Homo sapiens: one gene and its partner. The protein of the gene in region 1 binds, or shares a complex with, the protein of each later gene. Each region holds a gene or a part of one and is shown on either strand. Other genes may lie near its edges. A codon is read from its position in the direction of its gene.

What was found.
Region 2: the proteins of PDYN (region 1) and OPRK1 are in contact, whole or in part, in a cryo-EM structure (PDB 8F7W), measured with the Homo sapiens proteins. Residues at the interface, in NP_001177821.1 of Homo sapiens: Tyr207, Gly208, Gly209, Phe210, Leu211, Arg212, Arg213, Ile214; in NP_000903.2 of Homo sapiens: Thr111, Gln115, Trp124, Val134, Ile135, Asp138, Tyr139, Met142, Lys200, Glu209 (codon at 2,183), Cys210 (codon at 2,180), Asp216 (codon at 2,162), Tyr219 (codon at 2,153), Lys227 (codon at 2,129), Val230 (codon at 2,120), Phe293 (codon at 1,931), Ile294 (codon at 1,928), Glu297 (codon at 1,919), His304 (codon at 1,898), Ala308 (codon at 1,886), Leu309 (codon at 1,883), Tyr312 (codon at 1,874), Tyr313 (codon at 1,871), Ile316 (codon at 1,862), Tyr320 (codon at 1,850).

What each region holds. Positions count from the first base shown.
Region 1 is NC_000020.11:1,991,045-1,998,337, forward strand, and holds the start of PDYN (proenkephalin-B preproprotein), read right to left. Parts: upstream 3,015-7,293; 5' UTR 2,867-3,014; intron 2,705-2,866; exon of another isoform or gene 2,643-2,704; intron 1,763-2,642; exon of another isoform or gene 1,600-1,762; 5' UTR 1,540-1,599; intron 1-1,539.
Region 2 is NC_000008.11:53,227,633-53,234,655, forward strand, and holds part of OPRK1 (kappa-type opioid receptor), read right to left. Parts: intron 2,622-7,023; exon of another isoform or gene 2,198-2,621; coding exon 1,665-2,197; coding exon of another isoform or gene 1,578-1,664; 3' UTR 1-1,577. UniProt on the Homo sapiens protein: G-protein coupled opioid receptor that functions as a receptor for endogenous alpha-neoendorphins and dynorphins, but has low affinity for beta-endorphins.

The sequences.
Region 1 (7,293 bases):
GAAGGGAAGTGAACACAATAAGAGAGAGAGAAGTGGGGAGGGAGAGTAGATTTTGATTCAGGATGCTGACATACCGTGTGAATCACAAACACCAATTCTCTCCCTCCTGCTGCTCTCTGAGTCTGCCCTTTGTTCCTAGGGACCAGTGGGCAAGAGACCCTGCCACATAATAACTGCTCAGTAAACCGCTGTCAAGTTAAATCAAATCGTCCAGGAATAGGACAGGGACCAAATGGCAGTTCAAGCCAATGCATCAACAAATTGCCTCGGTGCATATGTCTGCGGCTTGTGGCCAGCCGCTCTGGCCAGTGGGATGACCTGGATGGACTCGGAGGAGCCCCCTGAGCCAAGCCATGTGCCTCATGGACCTAGGCCATCGTCCTCCTGCCAGGAGCATCAGTCTGGATCCAGGCTGGGAGGGACTGATGAGGCTGCGCTTCACAGCACTAACAGACCCCACTCCATTTCGAGGGTCTGATCCTGGGGCTTACCTGGGTGTCTCCAGCCGATGTTCACTGCCTACCACAGTGGCCAGCTCTGTCTCAGTGAAACAGGTTTATCACTTTGTCAGACCCAGCAAGATTAGCCAACATTCATGGGCTGAGATGAGTGAATACAGTGAGAGAAATCAGCTGTGTAACCACACTTTGTCAGGCATGCATTGAAATCGAACCAGTAACTATTGATCTCTCTTACAATGATGGAAGAGATCTAATAAATACGACAATTGTGCAGGAATGACCCAAGGAGGTGGGTAGTGGGAGGTGGATTTAGGGAGTATCGATCAAAAAGAGACTTCATGATCCTGATGCAGCAGATGAAATAAAAAGTCTTCTGCTGGGATGGGGAGGGGAAAGGAGCACCAGCCCCTCAAATGAAAATATTAGACATTAGATCATATCTCCTGGACATAGCACACAGCATGATGGAGTGGGATGATCAGCGATATGATAATCGATGGAGAGAAAGGTCCAACCTCACCACTTCGGAACAGTGAAAATCTGAGCAGTCATGCCAGTATTTATTGAGCACCTACTGAATGCCAGGCATTTTGCTATATCCCATTGGAGACTTGCAATAACCTTAGGAGGTGAATATTATTATTATTCTCATCATACAGGTAAAGAAAGTATGACTCAGAGAGGGACTTCTACTGTTCCAAAGTCACACAGTAAGTGAGTGGTAGGATCTGGGATTTCAGCCCAGCACTGTTTCAGGTGTTGTGAGACACACGTGTAGATGACAGATGGAAAATTCCTGCCTCCCAGGAGTTACTTCAAGAAACCTTAACTCCTTCCACGTGTTTTAAGATCGCAAATCTCTCAAATAGCCCCAGAGCTGATCCCTTTGCCTGCTCCCTTAAAATGTGCTGCCTTCCGCCACATAGCCTTGGGAACCAGTGTGACATCCCCCTCCCAGCTGCCAACAGAGGCATAGGGTTTGCCTGCCACCTATCACACCTCTAGCTCAGCTGGGGCAAAGCAGTGGGCTTGAGATCCCGTCAGTGAACGCAAACCACCCCCAGGCAGCATAACTCACCGGCTTGGGCTGCTGCAACAGCTCCCCCCACGCAGATCTCAAAGCCTGAAGATAAATGACCTGCAAAAATAGAACAAAGGCAAGGTGTGGTGGGACTGGGGGGAGAAGAGGAGGGGAAAAGAGAAGGAAGGTGCCACAGAGGGGTGGGAGTGAGGCCTGGGGTGAGAAAGAACAGAAGAGGATCGACATTCTGCAATGCTTTGCAATGGATCTCGACTGGGATGCCTGTCAAATTAGAAAGGCAAGCCTTGTATATTTCAGCAACCCTTGGAAGAAAGATGATAATGAAGACTTTCAGTCTGTGGGAGGGGAATTGAAATCAGATCCAATAATCGAAAGAGCTTGTTTCCCCTGGGAAGACTGGAGACTTAATTAAGTAATGTTTGTAGAGCTTGGAGGGATTCTTGATACCCAGGAAAAAGTAAGCAGTTGCAGAATTTACTCTTCAACCTTGGAGTAGTCAGCAGGCTTTTTTTTTTTTTTTTTTTTTCCTGAAACTCATCAGCTTTTTGCTAGAATCAAACTTTGAGACTTGGTACTTTTCTGAATATGGGTCTCTGGACCAGTGAGCAAATGGCTTTCCCTTTGAGCCTCCTCCTGGCCTTAGACTCCTCTGGCTGTAGTTAATAGGAGAGCAACAAGTCCTTTCCAAGTAAAATGGACAAGAAAATGCCTGCTAAGCCTGGGCCTCCTGGCTTGTTGTCACTCCCTTTTCCCATTCCCTTCCAACAAAACATCCCCAAACTTCAACCTGTATCAAATTCCATCAAAAGAAGCCGCTCAAACCAGCACCCTGTCAGCAATTAAACACAATCCGAAAAGAATGAAAAGGCCGAACCTGGCCGTACATTGATGTACATGTTATGTGATAAATGCCAGAGCCTTGGATCTCATTAATGTCCTCAAGCCATTGTTCTCTAAGTCCAGTGAGACTCATTGACCTTTAAAATCACCCTGATTAGTGAAACCTCTCACTTCTCCCATCCAGGGTGTCCCATTTTCCCCAGACCCTGGGAATGGCATGGGAACTGCTGTGTGGGAGACTGCAAGAAGGAGACCCTGGAGCTAAAGCCAAAGGGTGGTCCTCTTGGGAGAGAGCTTACCACCTGTTTAAGCCAGGACTGTGCAGAAAGGGAGAGTCCAAAGAGCAGTCTCTCACTGGTCTGGCTTTTGTGAACTAGCCTCCTAACTGTAACCACCTTTGCTAGATAATCAGACCCAAACCTAAAATCCCCAGCCCGAGCTCCCACCATCTCTAGGTCCAGAGGACCAGGAATAAGCAAATAAAACCAAGCGATAGAATTCCAGTGCCCCCTCTGGATGTTACCTGCACTCTGCTTTGTCCCTGGGCAGCTTCTGGCCGAGCAGGTCGGAGGTGGCAGTGGCTGGTCCAAGGCTCAGGGGCCTCCTTGACTCCGGCTTGGGAGGAGGTGCCAAAGAGGCAGCTGTGAACACCACCAAAGCCCCTTCAAATGGCAGTTCTGGTGCCTCTTCCCCCCTTTTATGGACGAGAGCCTCCCCTGTCGCTCAGCCCTTGCTGAGCACAGGCTGCTGGGAGCCAATGGGGAAGTGGCTGAGAGCAGTCAGAGCACAGACCCCCAGGCCCTTCAACTCGAACTCCCTGGGCCTGACACAATAGGCTTCTCTTCGTGACAGGGATGTGGAGGAGGAAGGCAGCCGTGTTGGGGAGGGGGCGGATTCTGGGTGTAGTGCTGTTTGTCACTTGAAATCCGGCCACTTCAGTTTTTGATGCGTTTCCAGGAGAGTGTCACAGGAAAAAGAAGACAGGGAAGGACAGAGACAGAAGAGTTAGAGAAAGAGAGAGAGAGAGAGAGACTCAGAGAGAATCGGAAATCGAGAAAGAGGCAATGTCGGACCTAGGGAGTGATACAAAGGAGGGGAGAAAGAGAAAGAAAAACAGAGACAGAGAGTGGCAGAGATAGGGAGATGGGTAGAAACACAAGGAGAGAGGGACAGAGCAAGAAAAAAGGAAACCAGCCAGGTAGACTGTCAGACTCAAAACACACTGATCCACAGACAGACAGACGTGGAGACAGACAGAGGCTGAGACAGTCTTCTGATCACGGAAGAGAGTCGGAAGATGACAGCCGAGTCAGCAGGCACGTGCATGGCCCGCTGTTGCGTGCCGTGGCAACTCTGTGTTGGCTGGTGCACGCGTGTGCTGGAATCTTTTTGTGTGTACATTTGCCTGCAAACGGCATTCGGCTCTGGTACATGCCTGAGCTGGTGCCAGGCACACTAGCCCTGGCAGAAGCACAGCTCTTCCCCGACAGCCAGGAGCTGCAGTTTAGTTTTCTCTGGCGGCAACACAAAATGAATAGCAGGAAAAACCCCTCAAAATATGGGCTGCAATATGCCTCAGCACACACTCTGGGTGAGGGATGGACCCACCTCAATATACCCTTGGCCTGGACCAGCAGCAGCTTGAAGGTGGCACTCTTCATTGCTACAGAGATCTTCCAGAACATAAGGGTCTTTGAGTTTGGAAGAGAACATGCTTCTCTTCTCAGTCAATAGCAGACAGTTTGTGGTGGGAGGCACAACTATTTCAGAAGTCTGGCAGGGCCGCCCATTTTGTGGGCACCTGGCTGCACCAGGCGGTTAGGTAGAGTTGTCAGATTTAATCCTCATGACCTAGCCAGTTGGTTAATATTATCCCCATCTTGCAGATGAGAAAACAGAGGTTTGAGAGCTGAGAAACTTTCCTAGAGACACACAGCAAGTAAGTCATCCAGCTAGAACCTAAAGTCAGGTCCATCTATCCTCCAAGTTCCTAGAGACACACAGCAAGTAAGTCATCCAGCTAGAACCTAAAGTCAGGTCCATCTACCCTCCAAGTTCCTAGAGACACACAGCAAGTAAGTCATCCAGCTAGAACCTAAAGTCAGGTCCATCTACCCTCCAAGTTTCTGCCCCCTCCCTTGCCTCTCCCCAGGCTTGAATCTGCCCACACTGAGGGGTGGGGTCAGTTTTCTTCTCTGGGACTCAGCCTCTCCATACACAGGCTGTGCTTAATGACATTTAAGATGTGAGTTTGACTCTCAGGTCTGCCACTCACCATCGGAGAGACCTTGGATAAGCTGCCAACTTCAACCTCTGATTGCTCATCTGTACAGTGGGGACAACAGTATCATGGGGCTCTTGGGCTCTTGTGAGGGTGAAAGGAGGATGTGTCAATAGCACTTAAAGCAGCCAGTACGGAGCGGATGTTCTGCTCCCATCATTCCTGATAAACCACATCCCTCCAGCTTTGATGCAGCAGGTTCTCCTGGGCATCCTCCTCTCCCTGCACCTGGCTCGTTAAACTCTCACATAAGGAGGAGGGTAGAAGGGGCTGTTTGCTGAACACCTATTATGCCTCAGACATTTCCACATTCCATCACATCCTCACAACAAGAAAACCTGTGGTGTGGATCTCACAATGCGTCCTCAGATGGAGAAGGCAGCAGAAGTTCAGAGAGGCCCCAGCCACCCAGGGAGGGAGGAAGAACCGAGACCCATCCCTCAGATCCTGAAGCTGCAGCCCCACCACACTCCCCTCTGGACCCACAGCCTCACTTTCCTTCTCCTCCCTGTCTCCTCTTCCCGAGGCAGCACAAGGGGTCTGACTGGCGGGTGCAAGCGACTCCTGGTGCCCTATGTGGAAGCCCCTGCCCAGTTGGTGATAGCCAGTGCGCAGGGTCACCAAGCACTTGGCCACATCTCAGGCTGGCTTCTTGCATGGTGGCCAGAGGACATGAGTGGAGTCTATTCATTGCCACCCTGGGAATCTGGGAGCCCAGGAGTGAGCGTCTACTTCATCCCCAAGGCCAAAGCCTCACTCCAACTGCTCTCTTTCCTCATTTTTCATTTCCTCCTTCTCCTCCTAACCTCTGCCTCTATAAGCTCTTGGTAATAACCTTCGAATACACAGAGACTCTTAGAGAGGGAGTACAATGGCTCCCGTGGCTGGAAGTCAGCAAGCACTGGAAGAGCAGAGGACAGGGGCCTCTCCTGACTGTTATTCACCAGAGGGAAGTTGGGGCAGTGAGAGTAGAGACACTCATGGATAATCCTCATTAAGCCATTGATGTCTGATATCCTTCACCCCCTGAGTCTACTGTTGCCTCAAGAGCAAATAGTTCCTGCATTTGCCTTTCCTCTCCTTCCGCAGCCTCCTTTACACACACACACACACACACACACACACACACACACATAGAAGGCCAGGAGCAGCCTTCCCCCTTAGTCCTGGAGAACCTTGCCATAAAGCTCACCCTCTCCTGGGCTCAGTGATGCACCAATCATGGTGCTGGCCCTGTGGGCAGCAGTCCCGGGGGTGGGTACCATGGCTCAGCCAGGCTCACTTCAGCTTAGATCCCGACGCCACTGCTTCCTCACTGTGTGACAACTGATGGATACTTCGCCTCTCTGAGCACCTGAGTCATTCTGAAGACAGGAGGATGCTGCTAGCTTTTATACAGATGTCAGGGCTCATTCCAAAGCTCTAGAATGCTCCCTTCCCTGCACACCCTCCGTGCATGACCAGTTTCTACTGCAGATCTCGAGGTGGGCAAAAGGCAAAGAGTAAAGAAAAGGAAAGATTTAAAACAACCAGTCCTCAAATCACTCCATTAGGTAGGATTCAGGAAGCACAGGCTGGAAGACAGAAAAGTTAAGAAACAAAGCCAGCATTTCTGAAGGGCTGTCTACTACCAGGCCCCATTGTAAACCCTTGACACAAATCAACACCTGATTCTCCCCACCATTCTGCCATTAGATGCAATTCCTGCCCCCACCTTACAGAGAAGGAAACAGAGGCTGGGAGAAGTTAAGTCACTCGCACAAAGGCACACAGGTAGAAAGTGGCAGAGCACAGCCTGATCCCAGGCAATCCGACTCCAGGCATGTGCCCCAGCCATGAGCTGCGCTGCGCCTGGGCTTCTCCTCCCTGTTCTGCTTCATGCTCCGAGCTCTGTGTGCGTTCTCTACTCACCTGTCAGCCTGGAAAAGTGGCAGCAGGCAACATGGATCACTCAGGAGGACCTCAGTGGGATGAAGTTCCGGTCCTGTGGTCAGCATCAAGTCTCCCAAATCACTTTTCATGCTGCCGTGTGTCCAGCGTGGATGTCCACACCGGGGCTGGGTGGGCAAGCGCGTGAGAGACTCCCACTGCCCCAGCCGTCGTGTTTGTGCCTCGCTGCTGCAAGAGGGAGTGAGGAGCTGTGCTCATCATCTCTCTCTCTCTCTTTCTCTTCTTCTTCCTCTTCCTCTTCCTTTTCTTCCACATATCTGTATTGAAACATCCCAATGTGCCATTCTCAGTGCTGAGCCCTTAGGGCTTAACATGCCACACACAACTTTGCCCTCTTTGTCCTCACAATCCAGGTTGAGGGGCAGGTATAGGAACAGCCACTCACAGCAGTACGGCAAGTAGGGGCTAGGAGACCTGGAATACTGTGGGAACAGAAAAGGGGCTCCCAACCAGCCTGCTGAAGAGTTGGGAGAAGGCTTCCTGGAGAAAGTGAGCGTGAAGCTGAAGACTGAGGCACAGGTGGGAGTTTTCCAGGCAGAGGGCAAGAAAGGGCATGTCAGGCAGAGGGAACAGCTTAGGCAAAGGCCTACAAGCAAGAAGAGTTGAGTGGGATGGTGGGGGAGTTGCTCTTGACTCCCCTCTTTCTCTTGCCCTGACACCTCCTCTTCACTGCTTCTGACTCTATCGCCTGGGCCCCCGGTCGCTGTCACTTCTCTCCT
Region 2 (7,023 bases), on another chromosome or scaffold:
TCTGCCATATGTCATCTGTGTTAGGTGCCATGATAATCTGGAGTAGAGGCAAACATGGTCAGAGTAACATTCTGAAGCCATGTGTAAAACCTTCAATGCAAGGTTTTGTTTCCAAAAGGTGAGAGTACATACACCACCGAGAACTTGCATGGTGAACAGAACTTAACAGTTGTAATGATGTCTGTAGTTACATAGGGCTATATATTCAATTTTTCTATTAAATTCCAGAGGATGCAGCCCTAGTAATATATAGGCTTGGAGTGTTATTTCTAAATTATCCCTTTTTTCTTCTCAGGCAAATTACAGAAAAAGCCATTACCTCTGAAATGGTAAGTTTCAGGGGGAAAAAGAGGGAATTTATATGTCATCTGGAAGTTTTAGCAAAATTACCCTAAATGTGCTGCTCCTGGCATTATCCTCAGCAGGTATGCCCTTCACAGAATGCCATGCAGGATGTGTCCTGGCACCAGGAGGGACATCATGTCCTCATTCAGCACACATTTAGGAACAATTCTACTTCCTGCTGAGAGCCACAAAATAGTACCTTGAGATCTACAGAAGCAAAACACCTTCCTCTCCGTGAATAGAGAGATCTGCGAATCGCTATATGTTCATAAAGAGATGTGGCAAATAAACTAGATCCTGCGAAGGCTACAACCTGGGAGCTAGTTAAAGCCTTTGTGATTCATTAGCACATGAGTTGTGAGCACTGTTACGGGACTAAATGGTATTCAGGGAGTCTGAAAGAGATCATGCCATGACTAATTCCCAGCAAAATGTCTCAGCATCAACTTAGCAACTCAGGGGATATCATTAGTGTGCCCTCAGGAAATTGCCTGGCTGGGAGGCAAGCCTATTCCTTATTCACACAGGTACTATTATTTACAGAAGATACTATATATATATTTTCAGTGGTATTCACACCACTTTATGTTTCTTGACAATGGGACATGCTTTATTATAAGACTGTTTACCTGAATAGCATGCTAAGAAAAAAAACTGTAGTTTTTGGGAAATTAAACCATGTTAAAAACAATCTTTTGAACGTTTAAATAATTTCATAAATAGCAAGATAATGTTCTGGTATAAGTGAACATCAGATTCCTCAGATGTGGGTCCAAGCCATATGTAAGCTGTAATTCTTACCACACAGCCACATGAAATGCATGTCCACACAGCATACAGTGAGCTGGGCATGAACCCTGGAAATAGTTCCCATTCCGTTGGAGGTTGTTGCTGTCATTGTGAAACATCTGGATTGGATGCCCATTGAGCTCTGAAAGCAATGTTTTTTCTTTTCCTTTTTTCTTAAACCGAGCTTTTGAAACTACGTTTCATAGGAAGGCCACAGCAGATGGGTGCTGAACCTTACCTAGCAAACCAGAAGGAAAAGACCTGTTCCCTTGTTCATCAGAGGAACTGAGGCTCTGCCTCGCTTCTGTGCCCTAGAGAAGAGGTGCATGTGTTGCGTGGACCTTTTGTCCTTGATGTTTCCACTGATCACGAACGTGGTCTGCATCTGATGACTTCAGACCATGAGATCTCTAAAAGTTTATTTTAAATTCTATCTTTTCATGTCAGACTGCAGTAGTGATCTGAGTTAAACCTAGATCATTGAACTCCTCTCTTCCCGAAGAACTGTACGAAGACATCTCCACGACTAGTCATACTGGTTTATTCATCCCATCGATGTCCCTCAGGTAAGCAGGATCCTGAACTGTATTTCGGACTCTGCTAGTGCTCTGCCGCTCCATCCTCATCTTCAGTGGAAAGCAGAAGTCCCGGAAACACCGCTTGAAGTTTTCATCAAGAAAGGCGTAGAGAATGGGATTCAGGCTACTGTTGGTATAGCCTAAGGCGATGCAGAAGTAATAGCTGGAGAGAGCAGCTGTGCTGTGGGAGGTGCTCCCCAGAGCCTCCACCAGGATGAATATGTGAATGGGAGTCCAGCAGACGACGAAGACTGCCACCACCACCAGGACCAGTCTGGTGATCCTACGCAGGTTGCGATCTTTCTCTCGGGAGCCAGAAAGGAGCCGGACGCTCTTGAGACGCAGGATCATCAGGGTGTAGCAGACGATGATGATGAGGACAGGGATCACGAAGGCAAAGATGAAGACGCAGATCTTCATGAAGAGGTCCCACCAGGAGTAGTCATCATCTGGGAACTGCAAGGAGCACTCAATGACATCGACGTCTGGAGGAGGGCAATAAAAACCACAACACAGAAACCTGTTATTGTTATTACCGTGGCTGCAAAGTGTTTTAAATATGAATTTTAATACCTTTTATTGCAATGGTCCAATTATGGTAAGATGACATTACCTGAAGTAGATCACCAAATTACTAATGAATACTGTATTTTGTTAGCCATCCTAATCTTTGTGCATGGAACAATGATGATAGTCACTGTTTACTGGTAACATACACAATACTGTAGAATTAAGATTAGCTGACAATCTTGCTCATCTAGTTGCAGAAGTTGGTTTGACACTGATGGCTTGCAGAAGAGGTAAAGAGTTAATGTATACCATGAGTACTTATTTCTATTTCCATTCATTAACACTTCTCCCAGACCTAAGGCTCTGGCAATAAAAAAGCTAATGTCTATTTGTAATAAATGACTAAATATTTCAAATCTAGCCACTGAATTTAACAAAAGCCAACTTGTTTGAAAAACATTAACTGGTTTACAGGAAATCATTATGTGGGTCAACAAAAATTGATATGGAATTTGTTTAAATATGACTCAAGTATTGTCATTTAATGGAACCAATGACACTCATTGTGATTAAGGGCATTACTGAAACACAAGTAAAACCTTTGGAGGAGGTGGGGGAGAATCATCAACATCATCAAGGGAATTCTGAGTAAATCAGGCACATTTATTTTCATTTTTACCAACATTATTATGTAGCTCAGATAAAACAAATATTTGTATGTGATTACTTAGAAAATTGCTATATTTGCTCTGCTTCTCTTTGCTGGGTAGTATTCTCTTTGGAGTAGCCTTAATATTAGGAAGACCAGGGACTCAGGATGGACACCTTCTAAACTATTTTTGTGGGTGTCCCATGGGCTCACCTTTCCCCAAACACCAGCTAGCCCACATTTCCAACCCCTGCCCCTGAGAAGTCAGCGAGCACACAGCAGAGCTCTCTTTGCCCTGGTCCTTCCTCACAGACAAGGTAGTCATGAGCAACACCATGAGCGTGATTACAGTAATGAAAATATTTTTTTCTGACACTGGAAAAATCTGCTTCAAAAATAGCACATGAATATTTTTTTAAATAGCAAAACAGCTCTATTAATGTTTTCTAAAACATTTTAATGCAATCTTAATAGAATATCCAATCTTACTAGAATTTTAATTACATATACTTTAAAATAAAAAGGATATAAACATTTTTGACAATTAATAAAGACTATCTTAGAGACCTTCATGTATCAATGAAATACCAGATGAAACCTTGGAGTAGTAAATGAACACTTCCAGAGAAATTTGTCATTTTTGATTTTTTAAAAAAGTCATTGTCCAAAGTAATATTACTATGAAGACTATTAACTTTTGCTTTAGTGTTTATGGTAAATGATTTTTAAATCATTACTATTATAATAGAATATAAGATATCCATTAAGCAACTTTTGATGGGTGACACATGAAAAAAAAATCTGAGTTCAATATAAATATTCTATTCTGGGTTTTGACTTGTTTGTTGAATCTGGTAGAAGAGTTTCCTTGGAGGTAGGGACCATGGTTTGGTTTGTTTTTTTCTGCTTAGCTTTTATTTTCAGCATTAGTTGTTTCCTGTGGCTGACCTCAGCTTATATGTCACTTCAGAGACGTTTAGATGGAGGTCTGTCTCTTAAATTGTCCTCTCCTCGGTAACTTACACTTTGTCTACATGTTATATTCACCCAATTTCCCAGACAGAAGCCTGTCTGATCTGTAATTGTGTGTTACCTTCCTAACATTTTTCTCTCCATCCAGAATGTGAACTGCCTTAGTGGAGAAACCCAGCCTGCCTTAATCAACACTGAATCCCTGGCACCTAGGGTAGTACCTGGAACATGTGGTGCATAAACAGAATAAATTGTTAAATAAATGAACAAACAAATACATACCACATGAATAACAAACCCTCGAAAGTGTGTCCTAATTACAGTAGTTATTATGGAAAAGTCACCGGCTAAGCTAAGCTAAGCAGAAGCCGCACAGGGCTGCTGTTTAATTCGGATAGACCTTTAACTCCGAGGCTCAGCTTCCTCCCAAACAAACTGCCTTGCATGTGGTGGGAGATGGTAAGTATTAGATGACTGGGTGAAATAATTAACAACAGCTACTTTACAAGACTTTGGGAAACAAACGTCCCACTACAGAGTTGGAAATATCCTCCAGAAATGTCAATGAAGCTGAATTTGTAGCGTAAAGAGAGTGCTGAGGCAATCATCAAGAATCCCAGTGCACTTCACATTATGCTAAGGGGATCAAGCCAGGCACAGAAAGACAAATATCACATGTCCTCAAGCATCATATTTGGGAGGTTAAAAAAAAAAACCTGAACTTACAGAGATAGAGAGTAGAACCTCTAGAGGTGACCAGAGGCTGGGAAGGGTTGTGGGGAGGGGGATATACAGGGGTTGGTTAATGCATACGAAATACGCTTAGAAGAAAAAGGATCATGTTCAGTAGCACAAGAAGGTGACTACAGTTAACAATAATTTATTATATATTTCAAAATAACTAAAAGAGTGAAATTGGAATGTTCCTAACACAAACAAATGAGAAATACTTGAGGTGATGAATATCCCAATTACCCTAATTTGATCATTACACATTGTATGCTTGTATCAAAATAGCACTGGTACCCCCTAAATATGTACATCTATTATGAATTCATAAAAACTAAGCATTTTTTAAAAAAGAAATTCCTGTCCAAGCATGCCATTTTTATTAAATGTTCTGTTTCAGGAAGAAGGGGGCATTTTCAGGTTGAAGTATCCATACAACTGCCTCAGTTTAACAAGCAGATTTTGGTTTCTTTATATATTAATATCAGAGGGCTGTGGCTTCTGCTGGCTCCTGTTCCAGCATCTCATGGTTGTCATAATTATAGAGTTAGTTCTAATAGCTAAACTAAAGCTTTTCTTGTGTGTATTCATTTTGTTAAGAATAATTGTTTCTGCTTATAGCGATTATAATAATTCTTAGCTACTATAAAAAAGTAAGAGCAGACTATGAATCCTCACATAATACACACACATATACTACAGTATGGAAAATATTAGAGTCAACATTTTACGTTCACAAAGTGAAAGCTTTGCCTCAGAAAAGTTTCTTGCACTTTATTTCTATTTGCTGTAGGCATGAAGAAACAAAATCCTATGTGTGATTAATCATATTTTGAAATGCAAATATGATAAAGTTGGGCATTTCTTAAAATTTACCTAGTAGTATAGCTTGACACCTGCTATGGCTATGCTAGAAATTCATTTTGTAGTTTCAGAGGGAAAAGATCAGCTTCATTAAAAAACAATGAATAAAGTCATTATACATTTGTTCAAATCCACAGGACACATAACCCGGAGAGTGAGCCCTCCTGTAAACTCCAGGCTCTGAGTGATAACGACGTGTCAGTGTGGGTTCAGCAGCTGTAATAAATGGACCACTCTGTAGGGGAGGATGTGCCTGTGTGGGGTAAATGGAGGTAAATGGAAGTGCCTCTCTGTGCTTTCTGGTCAGTTTTGCTGTGAACCTAAAACTGTAAACTGAAACCTAACTAGATTAAGTCTAAAAACAAACAAACCATGTATCATGCAAGACAAGCTATGATTTTAGTGCCTTGCCCTTTCACTATGACCTGGAAAATCCTCACTATATACACTCAGTTATCTGCTCTCACAGGTATTATGAACCCCCTAGTAAACTGGAGCATTTATATACCTGCTGGAGCATTAAACAGCATGAGTAGGCCCAGAGTGACTATTCTGCTCACCTCCCCATCATTAATTTCTATGAGGAACAAAGATGCTTTCTATAGCTTTATATTTTGCTAGTAAAGCAAAACTCCTAGAACAGTACCTCTCACCTTGGCTGCAGGTCAGAGTCACCTGGAGAGAGCTCAAAAATCTTGACACCCAGGCTGTACCCCAGGTCAATTACACCAGACCCTTAAGGGGTGGGATGCAGGCAGCAGTGTTTTCTAAAGTACCCAGGTGATTCCAATGTGCAGCCCAGAGTGAGAACTACTGTCCTAGAAATACAGGAAAAACATCAACAGGGGGCCGGGCGCAGTGGCTCACGCCTGTAATCCCAGCACTTTGGGAGGCCGAGGCGGGCAGATCACGAGGTCAAGAGATTGAGACCACCCTGGCCAACACGGTGAAACCCTGTCTCTACTAAAAATACAAAAATTAGCTGGGCATGGTGGTGTGTGCCAGTAGTCCCAGCTACTCGAGAGGCTGAGGTTGAACCCGGGAGGCAGAGGTTGCAGTGAGCCGATATCGCGCCACTGCACTCTAGCCTGGCAACAGAGCAAGACTCTCTCTCAAAAAAAAAAAAAAAAAAAAATCAGTTGGCTGGTTTGCATGGGGTAAAACCTGATATGTCCAAAATCAAGTGGTTCTGCTCATCTGTAACTACCATCCGTTAACTTGATTTTGAATGGCCTACAGCCAAAGCTGTTAAAATAGTGATTTGGAGGTTATCCTTTAGGAATAAAAGAGGAAAGAACCAGCATATGTCACCAATAATTTATATCCCTTGTTAAAGAGAAAAAAAGGAGTGAGAAGGTGTGTCCTGGACTTGCCAGGTTGTACTTTAAAATTCCACATGCCTGTGGTTTCTTACCTCATCCTCACCCCTCCACTTTCTACTAAACATTGCCAGAATGGGAGACAGGTCGGGCATCTCTCTTCTGGCAATGTCATTATTGCATTCTGTGTTTAGAGGTGGAAAGGGACACAAAATTGTTCTACTTCTCATCTTCCATGGATTTAGGCACTACATTTCCGTCGTCTTTT